3 separate regions of the Homo sapiens genome follow, and regions 1 and 2 are each linked to region 3. Evidence: fine-mapped expression QTL. A gene starts in region 3. Each other region holds a variant in brackets. All regions are shown on one strand. Distances are from middle to middle. Region 1 holds the start of SH2D1B (SH2 domain containing 1B). Region 2 overlaps UAP1 (UDP-N-acetylglucosamine pyrophosphorylase 1). Region 3 holds the start of UHMK1 (U2AF homology motif kinase 1).

The links. PIP is the estimated chance that this variant, and not a neighbour inherited with it, causes the effect. A credible set is the group of variants that fine-mapping cannot tell apart.
Region 1: its variant is the best candidate, but not a certain one, in a credible set for the expression of UHMK1 in whole blood (TOPMed, PIP 0.75).
Region 2: its variant is the best candidate, but not a certain one, in a credible set for the expression of UHMK1 in whole blood (INTERVAL, PIP 0.76).

What each region holds. Positions count from the first base shown.
Region 1 is chr1:162,410,065-162,412,828 of GRCh38, reverse strand. SH2D1B (SH2 domain containing 1B) reads left to right here and starts at 693. Exons shown (of 4, transcript NM_053282.5): 1 at 693-946. The coding sequence starts at 813. The variant T/G (reference allele first, on the strand shown) is at 1,383.
Region 2 is chr1:162,585,392-162,588,155 of GRCh38, reverse strand. UAP1 (UDP-N-acetylglucosamine pyrophosphorylase 1) reads right to left here. Exons shown (of 11, transcript NM_001324116.5): 6 at 488-681. Among named protein-coding and RNA genes, the nearest start is that of UAP1, 25 kb to the right of the region's middle. The variant A/C (reference allele first, on the strand shown) is at 1,411.
Region 3 is chr1:162,496,585-162,499,348 of GRCh38, reverse strand. UHMK1 (U2AF homology motif kinase 1) reads right to left here and starts at 1,531. Exons shown (of 8, transcript NM_175866.5): 1 at 1,081-1,531. The coding sequence starts at 1,348. RefSeq lists enhancers at 794-1,294, 1,481-1,560, 1,295-1,795.

The DNA of each region.
Region 1 (2,764 bases), 87 kb after region 3:
GATGAATCGTTAGCACATAGTTCTATTTTCATAGATAACATTTTTGAGATATATATAGTGATTTTCTGTAGATATATGAGTATACCCAGATATCCCTCCCACCTACACCAGCCCTTTCTCCAAAAGGAACAATGCTTGAGGGTGTTCAAATGGCCTTTTTTCACCAGTGGCTGGGAGCCTTAGCCATGGAATGGGCTGTCCTCATCCACAGTGTCCCACTGTTTTTTATTGCCATTAATGTCTTCCATTTTTAGTGTCATTTGATCCACGGAAATCCCACCCTTTCAATTTTCCCATTGTATCTGAGCATATCAATTCTCTCAGCATCCAAATGGTTTTTGAGCACCCAGTCTAAGCTAAGCATAGCCCAATCCTAGGCAACTTCAGCAGAAAATGGGTACCATTACAGCAAAAGCAGCGGTGTGCTTCCTGGAAAGGATACCAGTAGCCAAAGAAGTTGATGATAGTCCATGGTAATATACAAGGCTGCAACACAGTTCCAGGAAGCTTGACTTCAGCATTGCCTCCCTAGCCATGAGCATCACTGATTCCATTGTGTGTTTAAATGTGCTTTACCTACTTCTGTGAGTCACATGTGGGCCATTTAGAGGGTGAAAAGTGTTGGTCATTTTATCACCCCGCCCTCCTCATTTCCTGAATCTTGTGAAGCTGGCTGAGTCCCACAGACCGCTAGAGGAAGAGGTAGCTCCACAGGAGGTACAGCTGCTTACACATCTCTCCTCAGAGCTGTCCCTTGACTTGGGGGTGAATTTCAGGCCAACAGGGCTTCCTGGGATACAAGAGCGTTCTCCATGGATCTGCCTTACTACCATGGACGTCTGACCAAGCAAGACTGTGAGACCTTGCTGCTCAAGGAAGGGGTGGATGGCAACTTTCTTTTAAGAGACAGCGAGTCGATACCAGGAGTCCTGTGCCTCTGTGTCTCGTGAGTAGCCTCATCTTGCACACATCTGACATCGTATGTTGAATGTGGCAATGGCTGCCACACAGTACAGGAATTCATATCCCTCAGTATTTCACTCTGACTTTGGAGTCTCAATGAGTAGAATGAGAAGTAATGGACACTGCCAGGAGAGGAATGTATCTGTCCATGCTCCTCCATCTGCCTGCTCTCCCTGGTGTAAAGGCCCTGCAAGCAGACTCTGCAGCAGCAGGAGGGACATGGTGGTGGTGAAGGGAAGGGCTGCAGGAAGTACAGGGGTACAGAGGGATGGAAAGAAGGTACAAATGTCAGAGGTCCTGTCCTCCAGAGATCTGTTTATTTGGTATGGAAAAGGCTAGGGGTTCTTCAAGAAATTTCAATCTGAAACACTTATTCTGCAGCATCTGCTTGCAATACGTAAACTATAAATACAATCATA[T/G]TTCACATTTTGTTAGATTTGTGAAGGACTTCAATATTCGTCATTTCCTTTCATCCTAGTAGTCTATCAAGGCAAGCATAAGCAGTCACCATTTCATAGGTAAAGAAACAGAGACCTGAATTTCTCAAATAATTTGTTTGTGTTAAAACTCATTTGGAATTTCCAGAGTCTAAGTTAAACATGAAATTCCAGGCTGGGCATGGTGGCTCATGCCTGTAATCCCAACACTTTGGGAGGCTGAGGCAGGTGAATCACTTGAGGTCAGGAGTTTGAGACCAGCCTGGCCAACACGGCAAAACCCCATCTCTACCAAAAATACAAAAATTAACCTGGTGTGGTGGCGTGTGCCTGTAATACTGGCTACTTGAGAGGCTGAGACAGGAGAATCACTTGAACCCAGGAGGCAGAGGCTGCAGTGAGCTGAGATTGCACCACTGCACTCCAGCCTGGGCAATAGAGTGAGACTCTGTCCAAAAAAAAGAAAAAAGAGTGGCTGGGCACAGTGGCTCACTCCTGTAATCCCAGCACTTTGGGAAGCGGAGGCAGGTGAATCACCTGAGGTCGGGAGTTCGAGACCAGCCTGACCAACACGAAGAAACCCCGTCTCTACTAAAAATACAAAATTAGCCAGGTGTGGTGGCGTATGCTTGTAATCCCAGCTATTTGGGAGGCTGAGGCAGGAGAATCACTTGAACCCGGGTGGTGGAGGTTGCAGTGAGCTGAGATTGTGCCATTGCACTCCAGCCTGGGCAACAAGAGCAAAACTCCATCTCAAAAAAAAAAAAAAAAAGAAAAAGAAAAACAAATTCCAGGCCACAGTATCAAAGAGACCTAGCTGAAGGAACTTGTTTATGCCCAGTTTAGAAAGCAATCCTGAACAGAAATCACTAGAAACCTCCTATCTTTATGTATGTTCCTCTTTGTAAAGTAGGGACCACTGAACCTTTTATTATACCTGTAACAGAAATTAAAATCCAAATGTCTCTTGTTAAAGAAAAAAATTACTCAATGTCACTTGTTAAATTATGGTTGGGAAGACTTTATTCAGGATCATCACAAAGGTACAGGGACCACTGCAATGAGCTCTTGCGGCACAGAAAAGAGACTGGACTCAACTCTGAATCCAGCATGGACAAGTGGGAATTTATGGCCAAGGAGCAGTGTGGCTGTCGGTAGACAGAAAATTACTCGGAGGAAACATCAGGGGTAAAGTGGATTCTGGCTAAACCAGCCTAACAGAATTGTAGCTGAAGACAGGCCCGGGTGATCAGATGTTGCCTGGGGGATGGTGGAGGATGAGGAATCTGATCAGAATCCAACAGTGATCAGATAGCTAGGGTGAGGGGTCCTTGCCAAACTGACTTAGTAGGGTTCTTTGCTAA
Region 2 (2,764 bases), 89 kb before region 3:
AAGTAATTTCTTCACTCTTTAGCACACTAGTTTCTAAATGCCAGCCTGGGAATCAGCTGAATTAGAACTTTGTGGGCAGCTTTCTAAAAATATAGATGCCCCGAACCCACCTCCTGAAATTCTAATTCAGTTGGTGTAAGGTGAACATCTGTATTTTTAAAAAGCTCACAGCTGTGGTAAAGAAAGTTTCATTTCTTATGCTTTGCTTCAACAGAACCTAGCACATAGTTGGGGGTGGGAGGGTGAGAAGGGAGAAATGCTTTGGCCTCCCATTAATGCGCTGGGGAATGGGCTCCGATGATTCCCACCTTACAATACATCTTACTAAAAACAATCACAACATGAGATAAATGTCCATTTGATAAGTGATCCTCAGGAAAGATGAATTCTGTGGGATATGGACTTGGGGTGTCTGCATCCCTCTCAAGTGTCTTAGTTTCTGATTAACAATAAATATAATTTTAAAAGGCCCCCATCTTGCCCATACTTGACAACATCTCTCAGAAATGGTACAGTGAAGAAATGGTTGGCAATGTTCCCCGCATTGAACAGCAGTCGTCCGTCTGAGCTTCGTTTTTGAGCTGTTGCCAGGGAAATCTCACTATATTCTACCACCTGGTAAACTCCATCCACTCGGCAAACCACTCCAACTGGTTCTGTAGGGTTCGTTTTCTCTACCACCTGTCCACCAGAGAAAAACAGTAGAGGAGGAAATTGAATTAAATGTTTCTTTGGAGATTTGCCATTGTCAAAGATGACATTTACAACTTTGCTTACACTAAAAGGTATAAAGCCAAGAAGAATCTTTAACTTTAGACAATCAACTATCCATCTTTATATACCTTGACAGGCACTTTCCAACTGGAAATGAGGTATATTATTTCCTTCCTATTTATCACCTAACTAAACCTTGGGCTAGAAATTCCATCATATACATATATCTAGCACAGAGTAAATCACATTGGAGTGGGAATAATTACATCAGGAGTCAACATCCCCCATGTATCTTGTACTTTTTATTTAATTTATCCTTAACCACCTCAATTACTTTCATAATAAATAAAATGAAATTTCTCTGGGATTCACAAGACAAAAGACCTAAGTTAGGCATTTTGTCTCTCATTTTCTATTGCCCGATATTTCATTTGAAAAAAGCATTTCTTTAATTTTGGCATTTTCCTTGTGTTTCAGGGACCTGAGTAGGAGGTAAAGGGGTTTAGAGCAGGCAGGTCACTAGCCTCCCACTCCAACTTTAATTAGAAAACCCACCCATATTTATCTGTTTTGTATACTCAATTTTGTTTGAAATAAGTGATTCTATACTTCAAAAAAATAATTCTGAAAACCAGTGATGTGATAATTTATCAATGGCTCTGGGCTGATGGGGAGCTGAGAAAAGAGGGTATACTA[A/C]AATCAGAGGGAAAATTAAGAATATGTAATTTTTAAAAACCTCACAAGTGATTTTGGTATGCCACCACACTAATCCCACACATCACTGACTTAAGTGTTTAGAAGAAAATTATAAAAGAACTATATGCAATGCACTAATATAAAATCAAGGTTCAGATAAGATAAATATCCAACCGAAGAAACAAACAATAAAAAATATTTGTCAACCTAGGCAACAAGGTGAAACCCTGGCTTCTATTTAAAAAATAAAAAAATTAGCCAGGCGTGGTGGCATGCTGGAGTCTCAGCTACTAGGGAGACTGAGGAAAGAGGATCACCTGAGTCTGGGGAGGTTGAGGCTACAGTGAAACGTGATTGCACCACTGCACTCCACTCGAGCCTGGGCAACAGAGTAAGACCCTGTCTCAAAAATCCCTATCTATTTGAAGGTATTGTTTTGTTTGTCCAGTCTAATTATCAATTCAGCATGCTTCAAAATATGTTTAAAACTCTGTCCCCAATTTGACAAGTCTATCCTAAGTAGACATGAAATTATATTAATAAAGTTAAGACTTTTCTTCAACAACTGATTTCTTAAAATAAATACAGTCAGTAACAGTCTCATCCAGAAAACTAAAGCCACTATTGAGAACTTCATTTACACAGCAATTAGAGATATAGGCACTGAGTCCAGCTCAGTGAGGCAGGACTGCTGGATAAGTAAGCCTGTTGTGTGGTTCACTGTTTGCCACCCTGAAAGGAACACAGTTCTTAATGAAAAGAAACTTTCTACCGAGGAAGTAGATTAAACTGAAGGGGAACATTATGCAGCAAATTATTTAAATCAATCATGGGCCTATTTACAATTCTTATCTACCAACCCATCACCATCTCTTACTTCATGTACTCTACCTACAGTGGGTATCTTACTAGGCAGGGAATTTGGGATAGATTCCCCTTATTCTCTCTCTTTTTTTTTTTTAACGCACACAGGTTTATTTTCCAGTCACCACTATATACTCCTACTCCCAACCAGCCATAAAAATAAAAATATACATATTCACATTTTACATTTCCCAAAGGTTTACTTCTATGGCAACTATTAACCTCTAAATATTTTAAAAGTCTACATTACAGAAGAAAGCATTTGTAAACTGAATGAAGTGGGAATCCATTTATATTATACAGAAAAGATATAAAGTATAGAACGGGCGTGGTAGCTCACACCTATAATCTCAGCACTTTGGGAGGCTGAGGTGGGTGTATCATCTGAGGTCAGGAGTTCAAGACCAGCCTGGCCAACATGGTGAAACCCCATCTCTACTGAAAATTAAAAAAAAAAATTAGCCAGGCATGGTGGTAGGCACTGTAATCC
Region 3 (2,764 bases):
ACAAAAAATTAGCCAGGCTTGGTGCTACGTGCCTGTAGTCCCAGCTACCTGGGAGGCTGAGGTAGGAGCATGGCTTTAGGAGGAATTGGAGGCTGGAGTGAACTGTGATCTCGCCATTGTACTCCAGCCTGGGTGACAGAGTAAGAACTTGTCTCAAAAAAAAAAACTAAAACAAAAATAAACAGCTCTCTATAATCTAAATACTAACAAAGAGATTAAGACTTTTCGGATGAAATTTTAATCTTGCAGAGATCAGGCAAGTCCCTAGGCTTGCAAAATTTTTCCCTTTTCAATACCAAGGTTATAGTAACAGACCATTTAGTAAACTAAAAAAATGTAGCACTAGTGTTAATTCTTCTCCAAAATGATATTATAAAAAAACTCACTCTTCAAATTAACTATGCATCATACTTGCTAGGAAATAAGACTTTTCTTTAATAACCAAAGCTATAACTAATGATAAGCTTTCTGTCGTGTAATGAAAATGAAACCTTTTCACAGATCAATCATCAGTGATCATTACATATCTTACATTCTGAGTATCTGATTCTTGAAACAGTCTCAAGAGAGCAAAGGTATAGTGTTCCTAAATTTCACACTTCTATAAAGGCTCCCATGGAATAGTGCATCATTTCTTCCAAATCCGTACTAAAGATATAATAGGTGAGCTATACGAGTTACTAGCATTGATGTCACAAGGCCCAGACGTAGTTCCCATTTTCTACTGGTATGCAAAGATTCAAAAATTTCCACACAAGACACGACAATCTAGCAAAGACATGCCTCCTCTCACTAGAAAAGATATTTCTGTATGCTAATGAATGCGGCATTCTCCGATGAGACTCGAAGCAAGACAATTTACTGAGCATCTATGTGACACCTGGCAAAGCAGACCACCAACTCCACTATACCGCAGACAGTAATAAAGTGAAAGGGGAAAGGGGCCTGGATGGGGTGATAAAGAGGGCTAAACCCGCTTCTCCCGCAGAAGGGGAGGAAGATGGAACGCCAGACAGCGAGAGGAAGAGTGTGCTCGGACTGTGACCTGGGCAAGAAGAGAAAGGAGACAGCGGCAATTACCGATGTTTCTGTGACCCTGCAACTGTTCCAGCGCCGCCCTCTCTTTGCGGAAACCATACTCGGCGGCAGAGGCCGCAGCCCCGGTGGTTCCTGGCGGCAAGAACTGCTTGAGGGCGCCGGGGGGCGAGCCAGGGTTGCCGCAGCAGCGAACCCGATACACCGAGGCGGAGGAGCCGCTACCCAGACGGCTCTGTACCTGCCACAGCCGCCCGAAGGCCTCCAGAAAACGCGGCGGCTCCGCGCCCCAGGCGCAGCCGGATCCCGCCATCGGTGTGGGTTAAGGGCACGGACACGGGAGCTGACGCGACGCCTGAGGCAGGCCGGCCGGGCCCGCGGTCACATCTCCGCCAGCCGGACCAGCGGCTCCGCAGGGAGGGACCTGCAGCCGCCTCACCGACTCCCGGGACTTCAAGCAGCCATGACACCGGAAGCCGTGGTGCACCCGAGTCCCAGAAGCCGGAAATGGAGGAAGAGCCTATCATACAGGCCGAAGGAGGGGGGGCTCAGAAGGGGCGGGGCCTAGAAGAGATTAGACGCGCTAGGTTTGGAAAAAAGAACCGAGAATAAGAAGTAACCTTAATTATTGAGTATCTACCATTCCAGGCCCAGTGTTAACCGCTTTCACATAGACCTGAAGCCAAAACTGGTCCTTTTTCTTGTTGAGGCACCTCACCTTACCTCACCACTAGGAACCCGAAAAATAAAACCCGGCCTACATTTCTCATAGAAAGGATCCCAAGGAAAACACCCCAGGAACAAAAAGAGAGTTTACCATCACCTCCAGGTCCACGGTCACCAGAACCCATGATTCTGGAAGCCTAGACCTTTGTTCTTCTTTTAGATGTAAACCGAAAATACAATTCTAAGCCCCCCGTGTCGCCAACCATCGGAATGGACTTTCTCCCAGGCCAGGGCACTCTAAAATTCTGGTTCAGTCCATGACGGGAAGTGGGGGTCCGACTAGCCTCATACCTCTCCGGTTAAGGTCAACACAGACCTTCGGTCTGGTAAGAAACATTTACAATCTATTTTCTTGGAAGCCTGGTACCTGGAGGCTTCATCTGCATGACAAAACTTTGGTCTCCACAAGTTCTTATGACAACCCAGACATTCCTTTCTATTGATAACTCTTTCAACCAATTGCCAATTAGAAAAATTTTAAATCTACCTATAACCTGGAAGGACCCATTTCTCCCCCCACCAATTCCCGCTTCGAGTTTTCCCACCTTTCTGGGCCAAATCAATGTATTTCTTAAATATATTTGATTGAAGTCTCATGTCTCCCAAAATGTATAAAACCAAGCTGCACCCCAACCACCTTGGGTACATGTTCTCAGGATCTCCTGAGGGCTGTGTCACAGACCATGGTCACTCATAGTTGGCTCAGAATAAATCTCTTCAAATATTTTACAGAGTTTAACTCTTTTTATCAACATAGTCCACCTTGCCTATGGCTCCCTCATCAAAAAGCATTCACCCTGGGCAAACACGGATCTGTTCCAAATTTTTATTTTTCATTTATTTATTCAATTATTTTATTCATTCAGCAAACGTTTATTGAGTAACAAATGTAGCAAATAGGCATCTCAATCCACAAACTCGAGTGTGTAAGAAATGTAGCCTTCTTTACTTTTCAGTCATTCAACCTTTTCTATTTCAAGATCTATTCTGATTGTGTGGCAAA